4 linked regions of the Homo sapiens genome follow. The protein of the gene in region 2 purifies or fractionates together with the protein of the main gene of each other region. This does not show direct contact. Each region holds a gene or a part of one and is shown on either strand. Other genes may lie near its edges. The genes, in order: PPM1G, CERKL, ANKHD1 and PPM1B.

Region 1 (9,014 bases), about 150 Mb from region 2:
CAAAACAAAACAAAACAAACAACAACAACACCCTGGTCACACAGGAAGAGAAGCTTGAAACAGGCAGAAAGTAAAAATGCCAGCTATTGATGATTGCCATTTTTGTCTCAAGAGTCCTCTCTACGGCTAAATCTATCCATCAGTCAGCATGTCAACAACCTTTAGTGGTATGATAACCTTACCTCAAATGAAGCATTAGGACCAAGCAAATAGGGTAAATAAACTTTATTAATTTTTGGATTAAGCCCTAAAGCTTCAGAGGAATGGGAGTACTTTATATTTTCTGGAAAGATAAGATTCAGGGAAGAGGCTAGAACTCATAGTTATTTTCTTGCAATAGCAAAGAAACTATGCTACACTTTGAAGAGAAAAAAAGCCAGAAGGAACACTATCAATGAAGCAGAATAGGATCCCAAACAATACTCTTCAAGAGGATTTGATTAGGCATATTTAACTATTGATTAGGCATATTTATTCAAACAAGGGCAACTTCAGAAACAGCACATTAGCAAGATTTTAATACCCTAAGCAGTTATCTCTCAGGAGGAAGATTAGGATGTAAGGAATAGTCTAGTAAGATCTCTACACACTAAACCGTCCCTGACAAAAAAAATCATTTTCTAATTGAGGAGAAACCAAAAATAAAGGGAAATGCCCTACAGAGAAGCAGCAAATAGTATGGAATCACTGGGCAAACCAACGTGAAACACTGAGTAGCCAAGCAACTCAATCCGTAAGTAAAAGTAGAAAGAAGGGTACCAAAGAAATGAAAAAACAACAGCAGAGAAGTGAAAAATATTAAATGAGAAACCTGGAAGAAACGTTTTACTGCGAGATGGAATATTCACCTCAAATCTCACAACGTTAACAGAAAATGCCATGGAAATGGAACTTCTTGACTACCTACTTTACAAAAAGACTTTCCTACGAAACTATACCCAGATTTATTTATTTATTCTTTTTTTTTTTTTTTTTGAGACAGTGTCTCACTCTGTCGCCCAGGCTGGAGTACAGTGGCACGATCTTGGCTCACTGCAACCTCCGCCTCTGGGATTCAAGCGATTCTCCTGCCTCAGCCTTCCAAGTAGCTATGATTATAGGCACGCACCACCACATTCAGCTAATTTTTTGTATTTTAATAAAGACGGGGTTTCTTCATGTTGTCCAGGCTGGTCTCGAACTCCTAAGCTCAGGCAATCCGCCCGCCGCAGCCTCCCAAAGTGTTAGGATTACAGGCATGAGCCACCATGCCTGGCCTATTCATTTATTTTTTGAGACAGCGTCTCGCTCTGTCACCCAGATTGGAGTGCAGAGGGGCGATCTTGGCTCAATGAAGGCTCTGCCTCTCAGGCTCAAAGTGATTTTCTATCTCAGCCTCCCAAGTAACTGGGACTACAGGTGGGTGCCACCATGCCCAGCTAATTTTTTTGTATTTTTTGTAGAGACAGGGTTTTTGCCATGTTGCCCAGGCTGGTCTCGAACTCCTGAGCTCAGGTGATCTGCCTGCCTCGGCCTCCCAAAATGCTGGGATTACAGACGTGAGCCACTGCGCCCAGCCTAGATATTTCTAATAGACAATTACATCTACCAAATAGTTATACTGTGTATGGTGGTGAAATATGAATGCTATGCTTCAGTTTGACATAGATGATTAACAATGTCTAGTGTCTTCAACGATCTGATCCTACAAATTCTTTCCACCAAAACAGTGTCCTAACCTTTCTGGGCCTCAATTTCTTAGCTATAAAATGTGGGAGCCGCAGGGTGTGGTGGTTCATGCCTGTAATCCTAGCACTTTGGGAGACCGAGGCAGGCAGATCACCTAAGTCAGGAGTTCAACACCAGCCTGACCCACATGAAGAAACCCTGTCTCTACTAAAAATACAAAATAAGCCAGGCGTGGTGGCACATGCCTGTAATCCCAACTACTAGGGAGGCTGAGGCAGGAGAATTGCTCGAACCTGGGAGGCGGAGGTTGCGGTGAGCCGAGATCGCGCCATTGCATTCCAGCCTGGGCAACAAGAGCGAAATTCTGTCTCAAAAAAAAAAAAAGGGAGCCAAAGCAGATGAGATGAACTATAGGATACACTCCAATCCTGAAATTTTATACCTAATTATAAAATTGTTATTAAGGTCAGTTATGAATATAAAATTTGAATCGGAAAACAAAACATTTAAGTTCATACTGTCATTCCAGAGCTAACCACAGGGAGGAGCGAGGGATCTGAAACAATTCCCAAGGGAGACAGTATTTCGCTGTTACCTGAAGCCCACCCGGTAGGTGGAGAAACCCTCAATACCAGACAGAGTATTTCCCTGGCCCTTTTGCCTAGACTTCAGAATGCTCTTCACAAAGCCACGGTTAACCCGTCTTCCTCCCTTTCCTCCCTACCGCAGTTTTCCCTCTTCTCTTTTGTAGTTTCACATCAAGTTTTACCTAATACTACTACTTTCCCCCCAATATTTTTCTTTTCCCCTTTTGTCCAGAGTAAAATTTTCTAGAAAAGCCCTTTGTAGGTAGGTTGTGATGAAAAAAATTGATGAAATGACTTACAATCAAAGAAACTATAAACTACAATTACAGGCAAATGAGAATTACTGATTAAGTTTTAGAGAAATCCTAAGAGAGAAAGAAAACGAAGCATAATAAAAAGGAAAACCTAGGGACTGACATAATTCAAGTTTTCCGAAGTTAGTAAAAGGCCCTGAAAAGAGTGCAAATGAGTGACAACTCCTGGAGGTCGGGTCCAGCCTCTGAAATTAACATGCAAGAGCCCAAGGCCAGGCAACCAAAATGTGAAACAGACTCTGCCCGGGGTTCCTTTCACTGTCAAACTCCTAGCCAAAAGAGGCTTCCCACATCAGATATTTTAAATATTAAAATTTAAAAAGTTATTCACATCTATTCACCTCTCCCTTGAAAAACAAATGAATAAATAGCCCCTATTTGCGTCTTTACTCCCACACTAAACCTCACACCGTTGATGAGCCTGGAGGGCTAGGTTGGCACGAGAGGATGGCGCCAAAGCTCGGGGAGAGGGCGGTCAGTGGGCGGAAGGTGCCTCTTCCCACATGGCCGAGCCCTCGCCGCCACTGGCCACCGGCACACGGTCCCCAAGCATCGGGAGCTCCCTCTCGGCCCTGACCCCGCGGTCTCTGTCGCCCCGCAAACGGCCGCTGCGGCCGCAGGCTCCCAATTGGGACCCTTCCCAGGGGAGGACCCCATCCCCCGCTCTCTTTCTCCGTCAGATTCCCGCCCCGCAGCGGCCAGCCTATGGGCCCCTGCCTCCTCACCTCCATGGAGACGCGCCAGCCTTGCATGGCGGAGAAGCCGTAGGGCAGCGGCAGGCGCGGGGCGCCGACCCCGTCCCCGGAGCACTTCACCGTGTTGGGCTGGGAGAGGTAGGCACCCATGGCGGCGGCTGGCCGGCGGCCTCAGGTGCAGGAAAGCTGGGCGCGACCCGTGCCGGAGCCGAAGCCCCGGGGGTGCGCGCGGCAGGAGCAGGCCCCGCGGCGCGACCGACGCAAGGTGCCGGTGAAAGGCGCGAGGCCGGCCAGGAGGCGGTAACGGGACGGGAGCTGTGAGGGAGCGGAAGCGGAAACGGCGCCGCTCCAGACCCCGCCCGGCCTGCGCGGCGGGGCCAGGCGCTGCGGGCAGTCATTTCCTTAGCAACTCGCCCCGCCCGCAGGGACAACGGCCCGCCCAACGGCCGCTCCCGCGAGACTAGCGCGACCACGCCCACCAACGGCCGCCGTCCTACTCCGCTTCCTCGCGCAGGTGGCAGGTCGCCTCTGGCAGAACCTCTTCCTTCGTTCCCAGTCCCCAGCCTCTTGGCGTTTTGTCTGACGCCTCTTTTGTGTCGGACTCGACGCTTTCAGCCCGTCCTCCAGTGTTTTCATCCCCCTCTCCCCAACGTTGCACTCTCAGACTCCGCAAACCCCGCCCGATTTGGTTCAATTAAAGTTGACCAGTATTTGTTCCGAGCTTAGGAAGTACTTGGCCAGGCCATGCGAGGCCTATATGAGAAGAATGTGAGTCTTTTCTGAAAGCGAAGACCTCGATCTGTGATATAATTCGAGTTAATACAATGTAGAAATGTTTGGTACAGCCTATTCTGGGTGGGAAAAGCTCAAGGATGGGAGGAGGAGCTGTTTCTTGGAGGATTGAAAGGATGTAGGCTCTCAGAGAGGATGCCTCTGGATTGCATTATGCCACAGGAAAAGGGAATAATGTTATAAGGTTTGGAGGAGTGAGGGAAGAATGTGAACTGCATTTGGGGAGGATTTCTGAGGAAGCTGGCTGGACTCGGAGAATGATTGTAAGTGGTAATATTAACTAGCTAGCTTGATAAAAAGAAGCGCCAAGATGAGTGACTTGGACTTCATTGTCGTCCTGGTGTAACCTTTGGCATCGTTTGTCTAGTCTTTGTATGCAGTGTACATTGGAGGGAGAGAGTCTGGGGCACTGTTGTGTTGTTGTTTTTTGTTTGTTTTTGAGACAGAGTCTCGCTCTGTCGCCCAGGCTACAAGCTCCGCCTCCCGGGTTCACGCCATTCTCCTGCCTCAGCCTCCCGAGTAGCTGGGACTACAGGCGCCCGCCACCACGCCTGGCTAATTTTTTGTATTTTTAGTAGAGACGAGGTTTCACCGTGTTAGCCAGGATGGTCTCCATCTCCTGACCTCGTGATCCGCCCGCCTCGGCCTCCCAAAGTGTTGGGATTACAGGCGTGAGCCACCGCACCCCGCCTACTATTGTTTTTTTTTTAAGACAGAGTTTCGCTCTTGTTGCCCAGGCTGCAGTGCAGTGGCGCTATCTTGGCTCACTGCAACCTCCGCCTCCCAGGTTCAAGCGATTCTCCTGCCTCAGCCTCCCGAGTAGCTAGGATTCCACGCCTGGCTAATTTTTGTATTTTTAGTAGAGACGGGGTTTCACCATGTTGGCCAGGCTGGTCTCGAACTCCTGACCTCGTGATCTACCCGCCTCAGCCTCCCAAAGTGCTGGGATTACAGGCGTGAGCCACCGCGCCTGGCCTGGGGCACTGCTACTAGTTAGAGAGCTCTTACTCTAAGCAGGAGATGAGAAGAGCTGGGAGTAAGGTGGTACCACGCAGGGTGGCAATGGGAATCCAGATGAAAGGACAAATTAGACAATAACAAATAAGACAGATTTGGTAATAAATTGCATTCAAGGGATGGAGAGAAAAGGAGAAATTCTCCAAACTATGACAAAATTGATTCTTTTCAGCCGGGCACAGTGGCTCACACTTGTAATCCCAGCACTTTGGGAGGCCAAGGGGGGGTGGTGGATCACTTGAGGCCAGAAGTTCGAGACCAGCCTGGCCAACATGTGAAACCCGTCTCTACTAAAAATACAAAAATTAGCCAGGCGTAGTGGTGCGCTCCTGTAATCCCAGCTACTTGGGAGGCTAAGGCAGGCGAATAGCTTGAACCCCAGAGGCGGAGGTTGCAGTGAACCAAGATGGCGCCACTGCACTCCACCCTGGGTGACAGAGCAACTCCGTCTCAAAAAAAAAAAAAAGATTCTTTAAAAAGATAAAACTAATCATGGCTTCTTCATGCTCTTCCGATAGTCCAAATTCCTTATAGTTTACAAGACCCTTCATGCTAATCATCCAGATTCACGTATGCCTCTCTTTAACTCTCCATTTCTCCTACAACTCTGCTTCAGCAATGTCTTTGGGTGCATCTAAAGCCATGCTTTCTCTTACACTTTTACCCATGGAGCACACCTCTCCACACCCCTCTTGACCATCACTTTCTCCAGGAAATCTCTACTATCACTATACTAGTTTGGGTCCACACTTGTTTGTCTTTCCTGATAGAATATAAGCCTTTATGAAGGCAGAAGTTCCATTAAACTTACCATTGTGTTTTCCAGCATCCCTTGCAAAGTTGTATGTGCTGAATAATATTTAAATATTTGTTGAATGAATGAATAACACCAAGATTTTGACTCTGCATAACAAAATGTGGTGGAGCCATTAACAGAAAAAGGTGCAGTTTGAGGGGATGCTAGTTTTGGGGGGAAAACAGTGGTTCAGTTTAGGGTGACAACTAATATAAAAACATTGAAAATATTAGATTGGAGTTAAGCCATGAAAGTGGAAAAGATGTTAATTAGGCTTGCAGGTTGCCAGGAACCTAGATGAGATCTCTGACCAAAGCAGTGTAGAGGGAGCATATAAAATTACTCAGCCTTGGTTGCAGTGAGCTGAGATGGTGTCACTGCACTCCAGCCTGGGCGACAGAGTGAGACCCTGTCTCAAAAAACAAACAAATGAACAAAACAGCAACAACAAAAATTACTCAGCCTCTTCTTTCTTCTCCTTCTGCTCCTCCTCTTCCTCCTTCTTCTAAGAAATGAGGTCTTGCTATGTTGCTGAGGCTGGTCTTGAACTTCTGGGCTCAAGCAATCCTTCCACTTTAGCCTCCCAAATAGCCAGGACCACAGACATGTGCCACTATGCCCGCCTTCTTTTTTTTCTTTCTTTTTTTTTTTCTTTTTGGACTTTGTTTTTTCCTAAGAATGGAATGTGACATTGTTTAAAGAGCATGAATTTTGCCACATATTACCTATGAGATCTTTCACAAGTTACTTATTCCCTCTTAGGCTAAGTTCATCTGCAAGACAGACATACAGCATCTACTCTTCAAGACTGCTTTAAGGATAAGAGGAATTGAATGTAAAGTGCTGAGTTATCCATAAATGTTGTATATTATTCAACAAAAGACTGCTGTTTAAGTGTCCATACATACACGCTAAATATGGAATGGAAGCCACATTTAATTGTGTTCACAAAAAATAGGAGGTGGCCTGAAAATAAATGGGAAAAAAACAGACAAGAAAAAAAGTGGAAAAGAAAATATAACTCGAGGCTGGGCACAGTGGCTCACGCCCGTAATCCCAGCACTTTGGGAGGCTGAGGCAGGCGGATCACTTAAGGTCAATAGTCCGAGACCAGCCTGGCCAACATGGTGAAACCCTCTCTCTACTAAAAATACTATATAAACACACACACGCACACACACAATATGACTCAAGGAAAAAGTAACGCACTGGGAGAGCAATAATGTTACAGAGAGGGGAGATAGATACTAAGGGGGATCATGGAAAGAGGTGAAAAAGGAGAAAGAGTATGAAGATTATCCCCTCACCATCCTATTCCCCTCAAAGTCACTACAGTATATTTCCAGTGACGTAAAGGTTTCATGCTTTGACTAGAAGGGAGAAAGAAAAAAAATTTTAAAAAAAGGCCGGGCGCAGTGGCTCACGCCTGTAATCCCAGCACTTTGGGAGGCCGAGGCGGGTGGATCACGAGGTCAGGAGATCGAGACCATCCTGGCTAACATGGTGAAGCCCTGTCTCTACTAAAAAATACAAAAAATTAGCCGGGCGTGATGGTGGGCGCCTGTAGTCCCAGCTATTCGGGAGGCTGAGGCAGGAGAATGGCATGAACCCAGGAGGCGGAGCTTGCAGTGAGCCGAGATCGCGCCACTGTACTCCAGCCTGGGTGACAGAGCAAGACTCTGTCTAAAAAAAAAAAAAAAAAAAAAAAAAACACCCAAAACGCAATACTATATTCATAGATCGATTGATAATGCTGAGTCTGTCTTTAAAGTATGAGCTGCAAAAATCTGGCTAATCAGACATGGTAATAGAGCCAGCTCCTGAACATGTACTTGAGGTGTTAGTCCACATGAAAAAAGGGTTTTTATGGCAGGCATGGTGGCTCACACATGTAATCCCAGCACTTTGAGAGACTGAGGTGGGTGGATCACCTGAGGTCAAGAGTTCAAGACCAGCTTGACCAGTATGGTGAAACCCCGTCTGGCCGGGCACGGTGGTTCACGCCTGTAATCCCGGCACTTTGGGAGGCTGAGGCGGGCAGATCACGAGGTCAGGAGTTCGAGATCAGCCTGACCAACGTGGTGAAACCCCGTCTCTACTAAAAATACAAAAATCAGCTGGGCGTGGTGACACACACCTGTAATCCCAGCTACTTGGGAGGTTGGGGCAGGAGAATCGCTTCAACCCAGGAGGCAGTGGTTGCAGTGAGCTGAGATCGTGCCATGGCACTCCAGCCTGGGCAACAGAGCGAGACTTTGTCTCAGAAAAAAAAAAGAAACCCTGTCTCTACTAGAACTACAAAATTAGCAGGGTATGGTGGCAACATGCCTGTAATTCCAGCTACTTGGGAGGCTGAGGCAGGAGAATCACTTGAATCTGGGAGGCAGAAGTTGCAGTGAGCCGAGATTGCGCCACTGCACTCCAGTCTGGGTGACAGTGCAAAACTCCGTCTCAAAAAAAAAAAAAAAAAAGAAATTATGAACCCTGAGGCATGTAATTATAGATCTCTGGGAATGTTGCCAGCCTGGGAGACATTGCCTTAAAGGTTAAATGTGGATGGGCGTGGTGGCTCACACTTGTAACCCCAGCACTTTGGAAGGCTGAGGCGGCCGGATCATCTGAGGTCAGGAGTTCGACACCAGCCTGGCCAATATGGTGAAACTCTGCCTCTACTAAAAATACAAAAATTAGGTGGGCGTGGAGGCAGGCGCCTGTAATCCCAGCTACTTGGGAGGCTGAGGCAGGAGAATCGCTTGAACCTGGGAGGCGGAGGTTGCAGTGAGCTGAGATCCCGCCATTACACTCCAGCCTGGGCCACAGAGCAAGACTCCATCTCAAAAAAATATATATATATATATTAAATGCTCTAACTTTAGAGTATAATGTGACATCAGTTCAATTGTAAATTTGAATGTGAACTGAAGATCACTCAAAAAAGTGTTAATCTAGATCATCCAAAATATGCCAATATGCTTGTATTTATATTAAATATTATAAATTTATGTTGTCTTCCTATGTTACCCAGGTTGGCCTCAAACTCCTGGGCTCAGACAATCCTCCCACCTCAGCCTCCTGAGTAGGTGCATGCTGCTGTGCCTGGATCTCATTGTTTTTGACCCTTTCTTCATATACATGTGATTCATAT
Region 2 (8,020 bases):
ATATAGATAAGGCAGAGATTAGAATAGTTACCAGAGACTGGGAAGGGGAGGGGAGAAGGAAGGATGGAGAGAGGTTAGTCAAAAGACACAAAGTTACAACTAGGTAGGAAGAATAAATTCTGGTGTTTTGTTGCATAGTATGGTGACTATGGTTAACAGTAAAATACTATATATTACAAAATAACTAGAAGAGAGTCTTTTGAATGTTCTAACCCACAAGGAAATAATGAAAGTGTGAGGTGAAGGATAACTAACTACTTTGATTGGATAATTGTACAACGTAAATATCAAAACATCAAATAGTATCTCATAAATATATACAATTACAATGTGTCAATTAAATTTTTTTAAACAATTAAAAAGTTATTAGACCAGCTGTTGGATCTGGTTGAGTTAATGTGCTTAAGAAGCACATGCATAACTTTATATCACACATTTAAAATATTTCTCTACTTAAAAAAAAAAAAAATCCCCAAAAAGCGCTGATACTTTGTGCCTCCCAAATTGACTTATAGCCTCTTTTCGAAAGCCTCACTTCTACAGGGAAGGGTAATAACACATCCATTATTCCAGGTCATCCCTGAACCCAATAAAAAGAACTACAATTACTACGGTTATGCTCATTTACCCTGCCAACAAGACCATCAATTTGTCCCAATTTTGGCAGTCAGAGCCTTCATAAAATACATTAATGTCTTTGCTTATTACTCAAGATGGAAAATTAGAAAAAGATCACATAGTATTTTATTTCATCAGTGAAAACAAAGTACTATGAGGTTTAAAAACTAAGCAATCTTGAAAACATACGTATGTTCTAATAATCTCCAGTGATCTCCCCTACCCACCCTCATCCTTTTCTGAGGCAGCCAGTCACTTGCCAACCAGCAATGGACATGCTCTCCCCCCACCACATCCTACCATATCATGTCCTCCCAAGTACAGTAACTTTGATGTAGCTCCCTCTTCCATTTAATCTTTTACCACTCACATCTAAGCTTATTCAACAACAGAGCATTTCTAACATTTAAATATATCATCTCTTAATATCTCCTTCTTATTTCCCAGTGTTTGTTTTTGTTTGTTTGTTGTGCTTTTTGAGATGGAGATTCACTCTTGTTGCCCAGGCTGGAGTGCAGTGGTGTGATCTCCGCTCACAGCAACCTCCAACTCCCAGGTTCAAGCAATTCACCTGCCTCAGCCTCCCAAGTAGCTGGGATTACAGGGACACACCACGCCTGGCTATATTTTACCTAAATAAAACATCTCTTGGTTTCTTCCATAAACAGAAGTACTTACTAAGGCTCTAGGCTTCTGTGCCCCCAATTTTAGAGGCCCAAAGTGGTTTGAATACCAGGTATTAATTACAAAGAAAAAGGGTACACCTGTATGAAGGAAAAGACCACCAAATGGTTTTAGGGCATAATTAAACAAAGAATCAGTACTTGCAACCTTTAAAGTTACAAATCTGTCAAGATGTATTTTAAACTCTACTGCCAGGGGTGCACTAATTAAACCTATTTTACCTTAATCACCACTCAATATAAAACAGCATTTCTTTTCTCATGTCATTGTTTGCTTTTTTTGTACACAAATACTGCAACATTGGTTTGTATGACCTCTCATTGCACAATGTCTCATTTTAATTCTATAGCATTTCAGCTGCACTGTAGGTTAAACTGGCTCTTTGGGCTAATCCAAACTGTAATTATAAACTTCTATATTGCATAACTCGAATTGCCTGAAAGACTTACAAATAATTCCATAGCTATATCCCTAGCTTTTAACTTAAAAGGTTCAAGAAAATACTACACCTTGGTTTTTAAAACACCTGAAAACACTTTAAGGTCAAAGACTGTTTTCGTGAAGCGAGCGAGCATGGCACATGCAGCACAGGCAGAATTCACAATCGCAACCAGTGCTGAATCCCTGGCTAGTTGGTTTCATTTTGTTAGACTTTTGAGCAAGACTTTAAGACAGTGAGTCTATTCTGTAACATAAATACCACACTGTGTCTTGTTTTCCAACAGGGGAAGGCAATTTTTTTAATTTCATAAATTTGTATTTAGCTAAAAGAGGTTGAATACCAAATTCCATCTCCCCCAAGTCATCTCCTCGCAAGTAGAGTAACCTTGATGTAGTTCCTCCCCCATTTCATCTGTCTTTCACCGCTCACATCTAAGCTAATTCAACAATGGGGAGTATTTCTCGAGTTTGGACTTAGAAATAAGACTATATGAAAGTCTACTTATAAGACTTGCAAAATGGTCTTTATAAAATATCTGTTAAGTCTATAAGGCTATTTGACTAAGACGTGAAAATAGACTCGAAGTATTTGTTGTAAACTACAGCATTATAACTTTTTTAGGTAACTAAAATTTTAAGTCAATAAAAGGCAAACGTTAAGCAAACCGCTTGACGTAACTAAGCATCGCAAAACTGTGATCCAATAATCTAGGGTCAATATTAAAAATCAAAAGTTTCTAGACCGAGCCTGAAGAAGTCTTAATTCTAGACAATGGCAAGGAAGGTGAGGGGCAGAAAAAAACCCAGAAACACTCCCAAAGCTCTGGAGTTACATTTTCAAGTCAGCAAAATGAGAGTTGGATTCAGAACTCTTGTGTAGGCATAATCTGTGAGATGTTTATAGTTTCAATGTACCATCAAAGTTAATGGATTAAAACTTTTTCAACTTGGAGGGGAGGAGTAGTTGACCTTCTCACATTTGTAAATTACCTCCCCTTTGGGGCTCAAGATTTTCTGCTGAGACTCTGAGCAAAAGCTGCTTGTGACGTTTGCCCGGGGAAGGTCTCGGAGGCGGGAAAAGGCTAGGTAGCGAAAGAATCCCTGGGGGTTCTGGGATGGGGCGAGAGGCGTGAGTTCCCAGTTGGGAAGGAGGAGGCGGCGACTTGGGGACTCGGTAACCTGTCCGGGCAGTGAGGCGAGCACGGGGAGGGGAGGCGAGAAAAGGGGAGGGTGGAGCAAAAGCTCGTGGGTGTAGGCCTTGGGCCGGGGAGAGGGAGGAAGCGCGGAGGGAGGCGAAGACGCTTGGGGCCGGGCACTCACCCGCCGGGCGCTCGGGCTGAATGGGCCGCCACCGCAGTGCTCGCTCGCTCAGCACCACGTCACAACTGTCCCTCCCGATCTCGAAGATGCCCCGGAGCAGAATCCGCTCGGCCGCCGCCTCCGTCTGCTGCGGGGACGTTAACAGCGCCGGAGGCACAGCGGCAGCCTCCGGGGGCGCCTCTTCCTCCCGGCCGCCCTCCAGGGCACTCACCCGGTTCCTGCGCCTCCTCCAGGGCATGGCGGAGTCGCAGGCTGGGCCCGAGCCAGGGGTCCGGGGAGGCCTTTGGAGAAGGAGGTGGAGGGCGCGGCAGCCCCAGCTCTAGCCGCGTCCAGCGCTGCCACAGCAACGGCGCGCAGGGCAGGGACCCAGGAGGGAGGCGGGGCCGCGCCTGACCCAGTCCAGCACCCTGGCCTGCCAGCCTCGCCGCTTCGCCACTCACCACAAAAAGACCCAGCTGCAAGAGGAAGAATAAGTGGCTCCCTCCGCCTAGCTTCTCCTGTAAAGTACGATTTCGTACTTTTCGTTACCCTCGAGTTAAACCAGCCCTCCTCAATCTTAAACTTGCATATAATCGCTTGGGCATCTTGTTCAAATGGAGATTCTTATTGCATAGGTGTGGGACTGGCCCCCAGATACCACATATCTAAGAAAATACTAGGTGATGGATCCCACTGGCCAAGGAACACACTTAGAGTTGCAAGGGTGGAAGCCTCTGTTTTTCCACCTCCTTTCCAGAGGGTTCCCTGGAGAGCACAGGTGACGCTTTACAACCCTGTTTCAGAGTAGTAGCGCACTTCCCAAAACCCCTGAGGGGAAGCTAGAGATAAGGCCCTGGTTTGCATAGACAAATTTGCATCTGACAAATTCAGTATTAAAGGTAAGTGCCTCCAGGTGTAAGTATTTAGGGTCCTACTTTCCCCCAAGGTAGCGCCTCTGCAGTCTTGTCTTTGCCTGGATCTTGCACTCCCTTGAGGGAGATTACAAGCAGCAGGGCTTCACTTTCACGCACTGCCATAAAGAAGTGTCACCTGGAAAAGGAGAAGAGCCCTGGGGGGGTTCACCCTTTTCTCCTGATAACTGAGATTTCTAAAATCAGCTGCTCATTAATTTTGATAACACAGAGAGTCTGGAGGCTAGTGATTCTCAATTGTGGTTGCACATTAAAGTTACATAGGGAACTTTTGAAAACCCAAATGTCCAGGCCACGCTCAAGACAACTAAGCTGGAATCTCTGGAGGCGAGACCCAGACTTCCGGATTTTTAAAAGTTCCCAGGTAATTCCAATGTTCAGCCAAGGCTGATAATGGCTGCTCTAAGCAGGGTGATAAAACAGGGAGCTGAGTACTTGTAATGGGGAAGCAGTCAGGAAGAAAGTGAGTCCCTGGGAAGAGGAGCAGAGTGGGAAGTAAAGCAGAAGGCTTTTTTTTTTTTTAAACAAGATCATTATCATCATATTGAAAAGAAGGAGTAGGGGAGTTGAAAAGGAAATTAAATTCATAGGGTTGTAGATCTAGTTCCAGTGTTCTAGTGCCTAAACAGTTCTATCATAGAGGCAGCAAATTCTTAATTCTGTCCTCATTCCTGGTCACACTGCAGAGTCACAGAAAGAGCTAACTATAGCAGGAGTTTCTCAAGGTTCTTAGCTCAGACGGTTTGTAGGCCTAACCAAATCCCTACCAAACATAAAGCACTGTGCACCAGTTAAGCTAGGACTCTTACTGTTTAATGCTCCGACAATAAGTACCCAAGCTTCGAGGAAAAGCAAGGAAGAGCTTCAGTTTGATCTGACTGCAGTGAGCTATTTCTTAGAGCAGAAGTGCAGCTGCTGCTAAACCCCATGCAGGCTTCAGGTGGCTCTGTTCAGCAGTCATTAGAGGGAAAAGGACGGTGCCCTTCGCAGAATGAGTTGCAGTTCTGGAGTCAGCATCTTGTATTCACAGCTGTTAGGCAATCAACACAATTAGAGCTCACTGGCATTTTAAAAGCTCACCCAGAGCCAGTGCAAACAGGCCAAGCCAATGGCTACTCCTTAGGAGCTTTGCAAAGGGGCAAGTTGCCATTTTTCAAGCTTCACTCAAGCCAGGAAGTCAAAAACACTGGCTTTGAATTGTCCTGAAGATGGAAGTAATAAGGATTGTGTTTCCTTCTTTCTTTCTTTTTCCTTTGATAAGCTGCCTTCTTCCAGGGCTGGAGTGCCCTAGGGCTCTCTTTAGGATCTATCCACACACTGTCCCGTGCTTTATGTACCATCCAGGGTTCTGCAAATGATGTCACCAGCTCCAACCACTCTCCTGAACTTTAGGTATTATGTCCAGCTCCCTACCTGACATCTCTACTTGGCTGTCCAATAAGCTTCTAAAACATATCTAAAACCAGACTCATGATTTTCCATCACAAACCTGTCCCTCTCAGAATGTTTCAAATCTGTAGTATCAAAATCCTTGATATCATCCATGTCTCCTTTGTCTCATGCCTTCAATCCAATCTACCAGCAAATCCTGTCCATTCTGTCTAGAACATATAGTCCTTTCTGCCTGCTGTCATTGCAGTCTGCACTTCTGCACCCCTCAGCTGGACAACTTCAGTCTCCGCTCTCCCAACCCAGCTCTCTGCTTTCGGTTTCCCCTGTGCTGGCACCTCCAGCCCAGAGCCAATTTTCCATTTTGGAGTTACATTGTGCCTTTAAAAAATAACGAGAGCATATAACCCTGCTCACAGCCTTCCATTGACTTCCCATTATTCTTGGAATAAAGTCAAAATGCTTAGCAAGGCGAGAGGTCCTTTATAATCTGGACCCTGGCTATGTCTCCGAGATCACCTACTAACTTTTTCCCCTTGCTCATTCACACAAAGCCTTCTTGCCAGTCCTCAAACACATTGAGAAGAATAATCCCTTCTCAGAGCATTCGCTTTTGCTGTTCCCTCTGACTGGAATGCTTTTCTCCCCACCAGATGGTTCATTCTTTCACTTTGCTCATTTTTCTGTTTAAAGGCCACCACCTCAAAGAGGCCATTCCTGAGCACCCTCCATAATTCACCATCCTGTAAACCTGTGTATTCATTTCTTACTGCTGCTGTATCTAATTACCACAAATTTAGTGACTTGAAACAAAACCAATGCATTGTTTTACATTTCTGGAGGTCAGAAATCCAAAATCAGTTTCACAGGACTAAAATCAAGGTGCCAGCAGGCCTATATATTCCTTCTGTAGGCTCTAGAGGAAAATATATCTCCTCTTTTCTGGCTTCTAGAGCAGCAGTCCCCAACCTTTTTGGCACCAGGGACTGGTTTTGTGGAAGACAGTTTTTCCACGGATGGGGGCAGTTTGAAGGGGTGAGCATTTTGGAGGCATTAGATTCTCATAAGGAGCACAAACTAGATCCCTTGCATGTGCAGTTCACAGTAGGATTCAGGCTGCTATGAGAATCTGATGCTGCCACTGACCTGACAGGAGACAGGGCTCAGGTGGTAAAACTTGCTTGTCCACCAGTCACCACTCACCGCCTGCTGGGCAGCCTGGTTCCAAACAGGCCACAGACAGGTACTGGTCCATGGCCCAGAGACTGGGGACCCCTTTTCTAAAGGTCACCTGTGGATTTTGTTTTGTTCTGTTTTGTTTGTTTTGGCTCATGTTCACTTTTTCCAACTTCAAAGCCAGCAGTCTAACATCTCTCCTCTTTGCTTCTATCCTTAAATCGTCTCTTTTCCTCTGTCTTTGACCTTTGTCCCCCGTCTTAGATAAGGACTCTTATGATTACATTGGGCCTGCCCAGATAACCCTTAATTATGTTTTCAAAGCCTCTTTTGCTATGTAAGGTAACATATTCACAGGTTCTGGGGATTGAAACATGGACATCTTCACGCTGCCATTAATCTCTCTACCATAACCTGCTTTAGTATTCTTTACAGCACTTACTATTAATTCTTATTACATACTTCTTTGTTTATTGTCTAGCTTCCCCACTAAGTTAGTGTACTTAGTAACAATACTGAAATACAGAGAACACTCAGTAAATTTTAAGTTTGTTAGAATATAAGCCCCCTGATGGCAGAGAATTTATCTTGTTCACCATTAAATCCCCAGTATCTATCACAGTTCTTAGTACACAGTAAGTGCTCAATTAATATCTGAAAGAATGAACTTCTTCAACATTTATCTATAACAATAATACCAAGATACCCCAATTATTTCACGTTAGTTCCTGAAGATCAATTGTCTCATTAGTGATTCATGTGTATATATATATATGTTTATATATATGTGTGTGTGTGTGTGTGTGTATATATATATATATATATATGTAAAATACTAATGCATGAAAATTGCTTTCAAAAAACTTTCAGGAAGCTTCCTGAACATAGCTTTCCCTCCTTTGGCTGAAGCTTGGGTATTTGTTTCCAGAGCATTAAACAGTACAGGTCCTAGTTTAAAAGGCACTTTGTTGCTTTATGTTTGGAAGGGATTTGACTAGATCTGGAAACACAGTCTCCATCCCTGGTTCTTAAAAATCCAAGTCTGAGTAGAAGACTGTAAAATATATCCTGCTATTGTTAACATTGCTTTCAGGAGGCCTTTAAGTATGCTCTGAAAACAAATACCCAAACTTCCAGAAGAAGGGCAGCAAATCCCCAAGTAATAGGCCAATGAGACAGACTCTGGAAGTCTGGGCCACCTTCTCAGTGCCACAGATAGAGGGAGAAAAATTCACAGCCGACAGAGACATTCAGACCCACTGCAATGAGGGCAACAGACAAGGAAGTCTAATTCCAGTCAGGACCAACTGCCATGGATCTGAATTTTAGCCAGTGGGTAATCCTGTGGTAGTCCCTTTGATCTCCCTGAGTCTCTGCTGAAGTTTGGAGTTTATGTGACAAGTGATTGAGGGCTTATGCTATCATCAACATAGTTCTTTCTCAAACTCCAGTTTATAGAATTTTTTTTTTATTAAGAACTT
Region 3 (3,600 bases), on a different chromosome or scaffold from region 2:
AATCACTACAAAGTAGTAGCTTCAATAAACAACACTTTCAAAATCCATTCAAAACAAAACATAAGACATAAGCTTAATTAAGGAAGCTTTCTCATATGTAAGATGATATAGAAGATTAAAGAAGCAGGTATATCTGACACAGAACAAACATGGTGTGTCTGATGTGGTCCTGGCTTTAGGACCTGGGCAGAGAAAATTAAGAATTCCTGTTGGCATAAGCGTAGAAAGGTGCTGCTAATATAGTTCTGTCCCTAGTTACTACTCTTTCTCTGTGCATCCTTCTTTGCCTTGATATGAGTTTTGGCTTCTCCATCAGCTCCAAACATTTTCTTGTTTTCTTTTCTGTATTGCCTATACTGACCAGGAAAAATTCAGCTATATTAAAACACAAATAAGTTGATGACTATACTTTTCAGTGGGATAACTTTTCCTTCTCTATGCTGATTCTCGGCATAGCCTATGGTTTGGCCAAAGCAGCCCATTCCAGGGTTCCTCTGTTTAGCTTGTTAAACATATTGACTCTCCATGCTTAGGGCCATGGAACTAAGCCTGGAATTACTCACATATTTATAAATATTACTCAGCTGATTCAATAATACAACAGAATGACAGGAGTCACCTCCTTATGTCCCAACTCATATAAAGCTTAAAATATCTATAACCAGACAAATCTTTCAGATAAAAAAGGTCAGGAAGCACAGAAGGAACCTGAAGTTGATAATTTGGGTGTCCCTACATTTGTTTAGTGTCATCTGATTTAAATCCAATTGTTCTTATTGACATTCTCATGATCCATAGAGAAAAAACCTATCAGTGGCCTATCTGCTAGCTAAAGTCAGATAAGACACATTGCCAGAGCTTGAAACTTTCTCATATGTTAAAGGATTATGGAAGACAACAAGGGAACAAGGAATGTTTAACACAGAATAAATAGGTAAATAGTCTTAAAAGTGCTTTTTTAAGGCAGTCTAAGAAGGGACTCAAGTGTTAAATGTGAGAAGCCTGTTACAAATATAGTATTAACCATCTGGTTCAATATAATGTGGATTGAGTGGTACCTGCATGACCACTGAAAGGATCACACCCCACTTCTAAAGACTGTTCATCTTTTTATTGAATATTCTGGTAAATATTTCACATTAATACAGGCTACATTACGTAGAGCCACTATATGACAAGAAATTTACTCAACTTTTTCCTTTTAAGTATGTAAACAATTATACATGTATTTATCACCCTAAAAGGTTGAAACATGTAATCAACTAATTCTCTTCTGCATACAAGTAGTATTCTGTATGTTTAGCCAAAAGCACTAAGGTCATATGATCTTAAGTTCAAAATGGCTAAACTAACCAGAGAACATAATCAGGTGGATAGGAAATCAATTTGTTCTTATACAATGGGCAATCAAATTTCCATTGCTAAAGCCTCAGAGAAAATTTCTTAGGCACATTAAAAAAAAATCCCCATGGTTCTTCCAAGGTCATAGGTTTCTTAAACAAGGCTAAAGAGTAAAGACCTTCTAACTTAGTTGACATATTTGAGATGCATGTTTCCAATATGAGGTGCCCACGTGCCAGGCCAAATCTGAAAAGGGGGAGGAAAAATTGGAATTTCTAATTAGGAATCTTTAGACAGTTACAAAATGAATATATAAATGCAATGGCAATTCACTGTTTCTGCCTAGGAAGAATACACATATATTAAATAAAGTGTTCAGTAGCATCATCTTGATATTGAAAAAGCAATCCAGATCGAAATGGTCAATTATGACTTTTGATATTCAGTACTTATACTTCTCACAAAACAAAAAGAATGATGTGACAAATCTAAAAAACAAAAGAGCATTAAGCCCATTTTACCTGCTGGGCATCAGTGCATTCAGTTGAATTTTGGATAACTTTTATCATAGGGTTCCAAGCAGGATCTGGATTGTGAAGTCCATTAAACAGAGGGCCTCCTGGAACATCAGCAAGCTGAGGATGAGAGGGTATTATGGTGCCTCCATACATGGAAATTGGCAGACCCTAAAACAGCAGGAAAAAAGATTTAATCTTAAAATTACTATAAATTATAAAATTACTATAAATCCCATAATACCAGCTTAGACTTCTCTAATATTCCTCATTTAAAGAACTCCAAAAGATCCTATAAGTACAGTATGGCAGTGTTGAGAAAACAAAATGTTTATCTGCATCTGCAAAGCTTTTCAACAAAAAACAAGAGAGAGAAAGAAACTAAATCCAATATGAAATCATCAGGAAATTTCTCATATTTGATAAAAATAACCTCAACTTTCCCATATTTTAGTTTCATGAATAAGCTTGAGCTAAGAAGAAAATGGGAACTCTACATAATTGATTGCCGACATAAAGCTGTCAGAGCAGACAAGAAAGCATCAGTGAACTCATGGCCAGCTTTTAAGAGGGGTAGAGGCCTCCCTCAAAGCTGTAGTAGCAGAGCACAAAGTGGCAAAACCCAAATCCCTCAGGTGTTTTCGGGGGATGGGGACATCTTCAGGACAAACTACTGTGGACAACTCTGTGCACTCCTGAAATTAAGCAAAAGATCTAGCAAAGCCACAGAAACAAAAGGGAGCATTATTTCAATACAAGGTATTCCTTAATGTGACTACATTGGCTGACAAAGTGTCAATCAAGTTACAGTGATGTTTGTCAACTCACTTTAGAAAAATCCACAAAACCACTTGCCATAGGCTGATGAAAAATGTTAGAGGGGGCTACCATTCCAGAATCATCTCTCTCCATTGGCTGATGTTGGGAGAATGTGCTTGGGTCTGATAATTGTTGATGCATTGGATGGTTCCCCATCACAGATTGCGACCAACCTGATAAGCCTTCTGGAAAGAATAATTGAAAACAAAGTTTTAAATTTATTTGGATAAAACAACAAAACATTACCATTGTTATTACCAAACATGACCAAATGTTACTGAAATCTTTCCTCTGAAGAGCTCAAAGCGTATTTATCACAGTCTTGCTAGCCAAAAAAAACCAGTTCCTGAAAAACTAGGTAAAGTCCTCTGAATACTCCACTTTACCCTGTCTTTTAAAAGATTAAGTACTCTCTGAAAGAACTCAAATGATTATTTAAGAGAGAAAGGACACACACTTTGAATCTTTTGTTTCTGATTAACTCTATGTATTACCTCAACCAATATTCCAGACTCTGAAATTGGACTGAACTCCTCAAAGATATAAACACCCTTCCCTAATTGAGTGTTAAACATAGGAACTAAGTTTTTTTTGTTTGTTTTTTCTAAGGAACTAAGTTTTAATGGCAAACCTACAGCTTACTTAAGATATCCCTCCAGAGAGAGAGCAAGGCAATTGTACCTGACACAGCATTGACACCAAATGACCAGATTCCACTGTGTCCAACGGGAGCGACAAAACTGGTCCCCGCCGGGGCTTGTGCAACAGACCCTCCTTGCCGAATTCGGGCCAGTCTCTCTGTTCCAATTGGGGGAGGTATCTTTCGATCTTGACTGGCACTGACTCCTTTTGGTTGGCCCAACGTTGGTGGGGCAGAAGTGGCTGAAAGAGGTGAAGATGATCCCGAAGAAACAGATGGAATAGG
Region 4 (8,673 bases), about 140 Mb from region 2:
AGCTGCTAATATAATAGCAGTATTCCATTTCATTCCAATTCTGAAATTAATTCAGCAAGGGAAAAACAAAAAGAAATCAGGTACAGTGTGAAGAATAACTGAAAATTCAGGAATATCATACTCCTGAAAATTATCTTACCATAATCATGATTTCACATTTTATGCTATTACTTGAATAAATTTTGCTATTATAATTTTGGATTAAACAAACTTTTATTATTCTGATGCCACCAGTTATTTGTTTGCTAATTTTTACTAAAATCAGTGAATTGTGAAAGGCATATTTCACAGAAAATATAAAATACTGTATGTTGCATTTTTAAAAGCGAGAGTTAGAATTATACTACTTAACTACTTTCTATGCTAGGTAATGTCACAAAATACTTTAAAATAGTTACATATAAAAATATTCATGAAATACAGCTTTTTTTTTTTTTTTTTTTTTTTGAGACAGAGTCTTACTCTGGCACCCAGGCTAGAGTGCAGTGGCACAATCTCGGCTCACTGCAACCTCCACCTCGTGAGTCCAAGTGATTCTCCTGCCTCATCCTCCTGAGTAGCTGGGATTACAAGCACGCGCCACCGCACCTGGCTAATTTTTGTATTTTCAGTAGAGATGGTGTTTCACCATGTTGGCCAGGCTGGTCATGAACTCCTAACCTCAAGTGATCCACACGCCTCAGCCTCCCAAAGTGCTGAGATTACAGGCATGAGCCACCGCACCTGGCCTATATAGCCTCTTTTTAATGAATCACCACAATCACTAAGTGATACCGTGGCCAATTCTAAGCTTCCAAGACTGCCAAGACATAATCAGCATCATATTTTAATTCAAAAGATTCCATAAAAAATGTTTGTTATAGAAAAGATAACTTTCAACAAGAGCCACTTTTTCTGACCCTGTCAACCTGTGAATCAGCTGTTCTTAGAAGCACAGTTACTTGGACACTACACTATTCCTTCAGATGATGTAATCTTAAGGAATTTAGTAATTAGGTGAATTACTAACATAAAACAGTATTTACTGACATGACTAAATTGAAAGGCCTTTCACCTATTCCTAGAGTCTTCACAGAAATCAGACACCCAGTGTAAGAAAACGGTGTTGAAAGCTCTGCTGGTCACTTCAAAGAGAACAATCACTTCAACAAATCCAGAGGATAATGTACTAGAAACTGGGGAAATCTTACAGTATGAAAGCTCAAATAAAAATACTCGTGCTAATATACAGCAACAAAAAGAACCACTGCAGAAACTGTTGTAAGACTTCATGAGAGCAAAAACAAATGAAGAGGCGAAAACACAACAACCATTAAGACAAAAAAAAAGACAAAGAAGGCATTGAGAGAAGAAGCACAAAATAAAGATTATCCCTGAAAATGTGTGGACTAAAATATTCTGTTCTAAATACTTAATTTTAAAATTTCGATTAGAACAACACACTGTCCATTTGGCAGACCTACAAAAACATTTCCTTAAAAAATTACCATTACTTCAACTATATTTTTAAAAGGCCTGTACACTTGGAAAAGACTATCATAATAATTAGAATAACTTGTCTCACTATTTACTTAGAAATGCCCCATTTAAAAGTAGGCCAACAATAGGAACTTTGCTATTGCACAACAGAGAAAGTAAATGAAATAACATCTATTAACATTCAGCGTCCATGGCATGTTTCTCCATCTCCTAGAACATACTGTGACTTACACTGTCTACTCTGAACAATTTACCACTTCTTCATCCATGCAGTAGCTCAAATAAAGACAGTTCCTGTGTTAATCCCACAGTAAGCCTCAGTAATTCTCACATCACCGTAGTTGTAAACGTTTGTTAACAGAAAAAGAATGTTTTTCCTAAAATAGCTACATAACACTAAGACTACTCAAATTCCTAAATAATCCTTTTACAACATGCCTGCCAACTTTATTTTGATACATTAAACATGTGGAGCCTATTTTAAAAGCTCTTTAACTGTGACTATCAAAACAACTTCCCAGTTATTAACGTCTCTTTTTAAAAAAGTTTTCAAGTTGTTCTTAGAAGAAATTGAATATTGATGAATTTGGGCTGCTATCAAACGCCTAAGAAGCACTTTTTTTGCCGAATAAGATGGGCAAACGTCCCAGATCTGCTAAATCTGATATGAGAGGTCATGCAAGTTTAAAAAATGAAGAAATAACTATTTCCAACACTCACTGAGTCCTTCATTTAAAAAATTATTTTCGGTGTTATTTTCACACTTTACGTTTAATAATACAATTTTTTCAAGGTTGTTAGGCTTAAACTATGAAAAACTGATTTACCACATATGGCTAGTCAGTCTATACTCTTAATGGGGCTCCGGTAGATTTGGGGTACTGACAATAAGTGGCAGTTTCAATTAAGAACTTCACTGTTAGGAATGACATCCGAAAAGGATGGTGCTAGGGAAGACAGGCAAGAGATGCCGGGGTACGAAGAAAAGAGAAACACACAATTTAAAGCCACTAAGGAGGGAAGGCGAGGGTAGAACGCATAGACAGCAGAGAAAGACGATTTAACAAGGAAGTGAAGTGGAGCGCAGAGTAGGGCAGAAGCTGATGAGGAAACGAATGGTAAAAGATAGTGTTTTCAAACAGGGCATGCACCAGGAAGAGAAGCGCCAAGGCTTGGGGTAGCCCCAGTGCTTTCGTGTGAAAGAGATGCTTGCAGACTGAAGCGGAGGGAAGAGAGAATCAGTCAGCTTCCAGGCGTTCCAGCAAACTCCCATTCTCTCCCTGCGCCTCTCCCAGACCTCAGCCCAGCGGAGGCGGCGGCCGGGGAAGGGGCCTATACCCGAGAGCCAGGCCCGGCGTTCCCCTGCCTAGGCTCCGCGGCAGCAGGGAAAGCAGCGAGGATTCGGAAGGACAGAGGCCCCGGCCGCGGCTCGGCAGCACCGCGAAAACCTGCCCAGGGCCCGGGGCCTCGGCGGCGCGGCCGGTCAGCCGCTTCCCCTCCGGCGGGGTGCCGGGCGGCCTTACCTGAGGCAAGGGAGGGAGAAGATGTCTAGGGCGCCTCGCTCGCGCCCGCCGCGGTACTCAGCCCAAGTTTCCAACGGAGGCGCGACCCTGACTCAGCCGCCGCTTCCCCCTCGGGGTCTCGACCGCCGCCTCCGGGGCTGTTTACACCGCCCGGCCCCTCACGCCGCCGCCGCCGCCGATGCCGCCTTCTCTCCACCCTAGCGCCGTTGCCGATTCGGCCGCCGCCACCTCCTCCGCCGCAGCCTCGTCTCTCTGGAGCATCTTCCAACCACCGAACCCTGAGAATCAGAGACTCCAGCCGCGCCGGCAGGAAACTCCCCCGCAACTGCTAGGGGAACGAGGCCGTCAGAGCACCGGCGGCTTTTCCGCCATTGAGCAGAAGCCGCTCGGCTCCTTTTGCAACCCCCTCCCCGCACCCTAGTCCTTCCCCGCCCCTCAGGGTGCCCCGCCTCCAGCTGCCACCCACTGGGATGCCGCGCGCCCTCTCACGGCCCCCGGTTTGCTGGGAGTCTTGTCAATCACCGCTCCCCCTCCCCGTGCTGCTCCCTCGGCACCTCCGTACTTCGTTTACCCCGCCCACCCGGCCCCGCCTCTGGGTTTCTAATTTCCCATTGGGCATCAGTGGCTACTTTCAATAGGCAAGGTCAGCTGTCCATCAAACACCGCCCACTAAGTGAGACCCAACCCTTTATTACCATTTACTTTATTCGGCCCCGCCTCCGCTAGGTCCTACCTCCCGAACGTCAGGGACCAGCCCCCGCTACCAGCCATAAGTAGAGCCCTCCGTCAATCAAATAACGCCCACCTGCGCTCCTCCTAGCAAAGCCCCGGCCCCAGCGATTGTCTTTTCTTATTGGTCCAACTCGTGATCCGAACCCCCAGTCACTGGCTTTCTTGCGGGTCAGTCACTGAGCCAATTTCCAAGTCCGTCACACCGGCTTTTTTCAAATGAACGCGCAAAAGGCGGGGAAGTATCTGGAAAGCGATTGGTTCGTCCTAGAAAACGGTCAAACCCGGAGAGTCTGTACGGATCCTTTCCGTTCTGTGAGGACCGTGCCCCCTTGTATTTGACCTCTAAGCCTCGCGTAAAAGAAGCGCCATAAGGGACCAACGAGCAGTCCAGCTATAGGTGTGGACGCCTGGTCCCACCCGGAATTGCAGGGGCTTGGCTACTGATTGGCTAAGAAAGTCCTCCTAGGCCCTCATTGGAGGATCTAAACGCCTCTCTTCGGCGTGGAGACGGGAAGGGACGACTCAGACGAGGACAAGAAGTGGGCAGGGGAGAGGCGGTTGTTTTGCTTCAGCCGCGGGTGGGGCGCAGGCGAGAGTGGGAAACTGGGAAGGCCGGGCTCTGGGGAGGTGTTGCGGGGAGGGGAAAGGCCCGGATGTTCCCTAACAATGAAATCATCGCCGACCTATCAGAGCCGCCGAGCTGGGATACCTGCCTGACCTGTACCCCGGAGGGAGAAGAGTGGGCGGGAAATTGGGGTGTCGGAAGAACCTGGAAAGCAACGTGAGAAAGTGGGACAGGTGTTCCCTTCAGGAGGATTTTGTGCTATTAGAGATTATTTTTATACCAGCCCTTGACATTTCCGTATTTTGTTTCTCAGTCGGCATTGATATTAAAACTCCCAGCCTAGTCTCTTGACATGGACTTGTTCATTTCGCAGTTATTGAGCGCCTACTGTTTGCCAGGTACTGTATGTAGAACTGGAGATACAAAAATAAATTAGGCAATCGCAGTACAAGATGATAGGTACTACAATTGAAACATGCACAAGGGCTGGTGACGACATAAAGGGTCTTCCTTGTGCATAGGTTTACCAAGAAAGGCTTCACAAAGACACAGGATGAGTCAAGAATGAATGATAGGGGTTTAACAGGCCGATGGGGAAAGTGGACATGACTCCTCCAGCTATCAAATTAGACGATGCTGCCATGTTAATTCTCCAAACGAGAAACAAAAGTGTAATAGAGGTATTCTAATACTTACCTTAGGATATATATATATATATATATTTTTTTTTTAATCCGAATGTCCTAAAAGAACTTAAACCTATTTCCTACTTTGGTGTAAAATGGTTTGGGCAGACAATTTAAGCTTAGACCCAACAGAGTGCTATTCAGGTTAGGGGCTGTCAATGTTTTATAGAAAAGGGCAAATTTAGTAATAGGACAATTGTCCAGGCCGTCATAAGGACGGCAGAAACAAAGACTTAATTGCAATTCGGGTTTTTTTGTTTTTTGAGCAAGCATATTTTACTTTTTAATAAGACAAATCTGAAAAAGCAAACGCGGTCCAAAAAGCATGTGATTCGGTAAGAGAGATTTTAAAAAACCAAAAAACCGTATCTTCTTTTCACCCCAGATCTTATTAACTGTGTGTTTTCCTCTTCGAGAACTTGTATCGTCAATAACGTCATCGTGAACCAGACTAGCAGTGTGGATCATTTCTGCAATTAAGGCTATGGCGCGGTGGCTGGCTTGCACATGTCAAATTAACAGACAGCAATGCTTTTTAACAGACGCCGCCTAGAACCTTCTCAGCAATCAGCTTGTGAAAATTGGACATCGGATCGGGAGTTGTTATGATGGATATTACATGCTCGGGCCATTAGCACCCCAATAATTGGTCGAAAGGCTTTTCCTTTTCCATCAAAGTAGTACTCAGACATTTCCTGAAGTTCTGTTGTTGATATGAGCAGTTCCTTTCTAATGTCCTCATACAGACCTTTCAAGTCTCTGCAACCGAATTTGAAAGGATCGGTGATCTGTATATTTCTCACCACTGTGTGTTTTACTGTCCGGGGTTGTGTGATAAAACCGTGATATACTGTATACATTTGGACAGGCAGATGTTAAGCGCTTCACAAGACTAAAATAGGGTATCTGAGACAAGCCGAATCCCTTCCGCCTATGAGCCTGAGCGCGGGCGCCGGCAGCGGCGCGCGGCCCTGGAGGCCCTGCAAGGCCGGGGGAGCCGGGCACACCGCCACCAGCGTGAGGCCATGGTCGGAGACTGAAAGTCGCGGCAGGGTGGCGGCTCCGCCTCTGCAATTCAGATTTTTAAAACCTACTCATCAAGTTTGTGTGAGAATGGTGTTTCTTACAGCATGGTGAATAGACCACCAGCATCCGAATCATCTGGGATTCTGGGATAGAGATTCCCAGGTCCACTCATGCCTACAAATCAGGGACTCTGGGGACAAGGCTCAGAAAGGTGAATTTTAAAATAGCTCCCCAGATGATTTTTTTTTTTTTTTTTTTGAGACGGAGTCTCACTCTGACGCCCAGGCTGGAGTGCAGTAGTGCAATCTCGGTTCAGTGCAACCTCCGCCTCCCAGGTTCAAGTGATTCTCCTGCCTCAGCCTCCCGAGTAGCTGGGATTGCAGGCACCCACCACCACGCCTGGCTAATTTTTGTATTTTTAGTAGAGACGGGGTTTCACCATGTTGGTCAGGCTGGTCACAAACTCCTGACCTCAAGTGATCCTCCCGCCTCAGCCTCCCAAAGTGCTGGGATTACAGGCGTGAGCCACCGCACCTGACCTGCAGATGATTTTTATGCGCATCAATGTTTGAGACCCTCTGGCACAGGATAATGGAGGCAGATGTAAAGTAAATTAATTTCCTCACTTTTGCATGTTGGGAGAACATATGTATATCTCACATTTCCACTGTCCCCTTTATTATCAGCGTGAGATCATACAGTCCGCAGGAAGTATTATTGAAGTGACTTATAAAAAAATTAAATTTTCTTTAATCACACTCCATTGCCTGACACCCCTTATGTAAGCAGAAGGGAGTCTGAGACCTCAGCTTCTAAAATGGGAACCATGCTAAGGATAAAAAACTGAAGACATTTAGGGACCCTTGTCCTGTGAATACAAGCAACTACAGAAAGGCATGAGAACAGTTTCTTGGCTTGCTTGACTTCCTTCTCACCTTCCCTTGGTTGACCCAAAAACAAATACAAAGCTCAGTCATTTAGGTGGGCTGATAATTCCATATCATTCATACTTTCAATCACCAAGAGCAAAAAAAAAAAAAGTATGGAGACACCCCAGAACAGATTTGAAGGTTAACTTTGTTGTATGCTTTATTTGCTTAAAATACTAAACCATTAAAGAAAGCCCAACAAGAGTCACAACTTTGAAAACTGCTGTTTACCATCATAAACATAATGTGTCATAAACCCTGAGTACCATCATAATGTGCTCTGCTACGAACTAGCTGTGTGACTTGAGCTAGTAACTAAGCTATCTGAGCCTTGGTTTGTTCTGCAAAATGGGAATCGTAACATCTTTCTCCAGAGCCACATGAAGAGTTTTAGAGTCTCTTAGTAATGCAAATCATTCCCCAATATATAGTTTTAAATAAAAACAATATTAAATGTAATGTAGAAAAAGTTGGGTGAGGAAATCACATGATCACCCCTAGCTGCAAGGGAGCCCAAACAATCAGGGAACTGCGAGGTCACAAGTTGCTTAGAGCAGAGATTCCCAGTCTTTACCAAGCATCACAATCTCTTTAGATGTCATTTATACTCACCACTCTTTTGAAATTATTATAATTATTATACTCATCACTAGATCTTGTTATTTCATGCATTAATAAAGAAGCATAGGCTGGGCGTGGTGGCTCATGCCTGTAATCCCAGCACTTTGGGAGGCTGAGGCGGGTGGATCACGAGGTCAGGAGTTTGAGACCAGCCTGGCCAACCTAGTGAAACCCCGTCTCTACTAAATACAAAAATTAGCCAGGTGTGGAGGCACGTGCCTGTAGTCCCAGCTACTCGGGAGGCTGAGGCGGGAGAATCACCTGAACCTGGGAGTCGGAGGTTGCAGTGAGCCGAGACCATGCCATTGCACTCTGGCCTGGGTGACAGAGTGAGACTCTGTCTCAAAAAAAAAAAGAAGCATATCACAAATGTACTTGTTTCATAACTGTCTTTAATTATAATTGGTTTTCCTTTATAATCTTAATGAGCTTTATGTATTTTTAAATGTTATTCTGAGAAGAAATCCACAGGATTCACCAAAGGGACCCTTTGCCCAAAAAAAGGCATGGAGGAGGTCGTACCCCTGCTGTGGACTATAACCTCCAATTCAGCAAGGACATCGTTTCTTTTGTTGTAAATCATACACAATAGATGCTTGATAAGTATTTCTTGAATTGCATTTGGAGGATCTCAAGTAGTTTGCTGGACATTTTTCCTTTTCTCAGTTCTACGACCTGAAGCCTGGGCCTGTCCCCCAACCCTGCTTCCTCCTTAGAGAGGAAGTTGATCAAGCTATCACCATCTTACATGCAATCCCCACAGCCTAGGAGGCCAAAACTGGCTTCCTCAGAACCAGATCCTCCTTTGTGTTTTAAAGTGAGTGTCATACACATAAGATGATTGAGATTATGATTATAACACAGTGGGTGGTATCAGGAAAACTATTCACATGGAGCCCAACTATAAATGGTGCAACATTACTAAATGTTTAAATATGCTTGGCTGTGGAAAACTCTAATAACAGCCATTTGTGTAAGCAGTTTAGCATTTATGCCCAAATTCATTTACATTATTCATTGATTTTGTTATTTTTTTTTTTACAATAAAGTATACATTTCTGCCAACTCTTCATCTTTGCTTTATCATAGCATTGCCATTTGCTCATCCAATG

Evidence for each region.
Region 1: the proteins of CERKL (region 2) and PPM1G purify together in Homo sapiens (affinity purification with mass spectrometry; 2 studies listed by BioGRID and IntAct, with this or other methods). This does not show direct contact.
Region 3: the proteins of CERKL (region 2) and ANKHD1 purify together in Homo sapiens (affinity purification with mass spectrometry, with the first as the bait; 2 studies listed by BioGRID). This does not show direct contact.
Region 4: the proteins of CERKL (region 2) and PPM1B purify together in Homo sapiens (co-immunoprecipitation; 3 studies listed by BioGRID and IntAct, with this or other methods). This does not show direct contact.

The regions. Positions count from the first base shown.
Region 1 is NC_000002.12:27,406,009-27,415,022, forward strand, and holds the start of PPM1G (protein phosphatase 1G), read right to left. Parts: upstream 3,584-9,014; 5' UTR 3,415-3,583; coding exon 3,295-3,414; intron 1-3,294.
Region 2 is NC_000002.12:181,653,706-181,661,725, forward strand, and holds the start of CERKL (ceramide kinase-like protein), read right to left. Parts: upstream 3,401-8,020; 5' UTR 3,302-3,400; coding exon 3,064-3,301; intron 1-3,063. UniProt on the Homo sapiens protein: Has no detectable ceramide-kinase activity. Overexpression of CERKL protects cells from apoptosis in oxidative stress conditions.
Region 3 is NC_000005.10:140,537,346-140,540,945, reverse strand, and holds the end of ANKHD1 (ankyrin repeat and KH domain-containing protein 1), read right to left. Parts: intron 3,558-3,600; coding exon 3,357-3,557; intron 2,861-3,356; coding exon 2,685-2,860; intron 2,028-2,684; coding exon 1,863-2,027; intron 1,588-1,862; coding exon 1,528-1,587; 3' UTR 1,097-1,527; downstream 1-1,096. Other genes in the region: ANKHD1-EIF4EBP3 protein, read right to left, coding at 1,863-2,027, 2,685-2,860, 3,357-3,557. UniProt on the Homo sapiens protein: May play a role as a scaffolding protein that may be associated with the abnormal phenotype of leukemia cells. Isoform 2 may possess an antiapoptotic effect and protect cells during normal cell survival through its regulation of caspases.
Region 4 is NC_000002.12:44,163,604-44,172,276, reverse strand, and holds the start of PPM1B (protein phosphatase 1B), read right to left. Parts: upstream 3,403-8,673; 5' UTR 3,003-3,402; intron 1-3,002.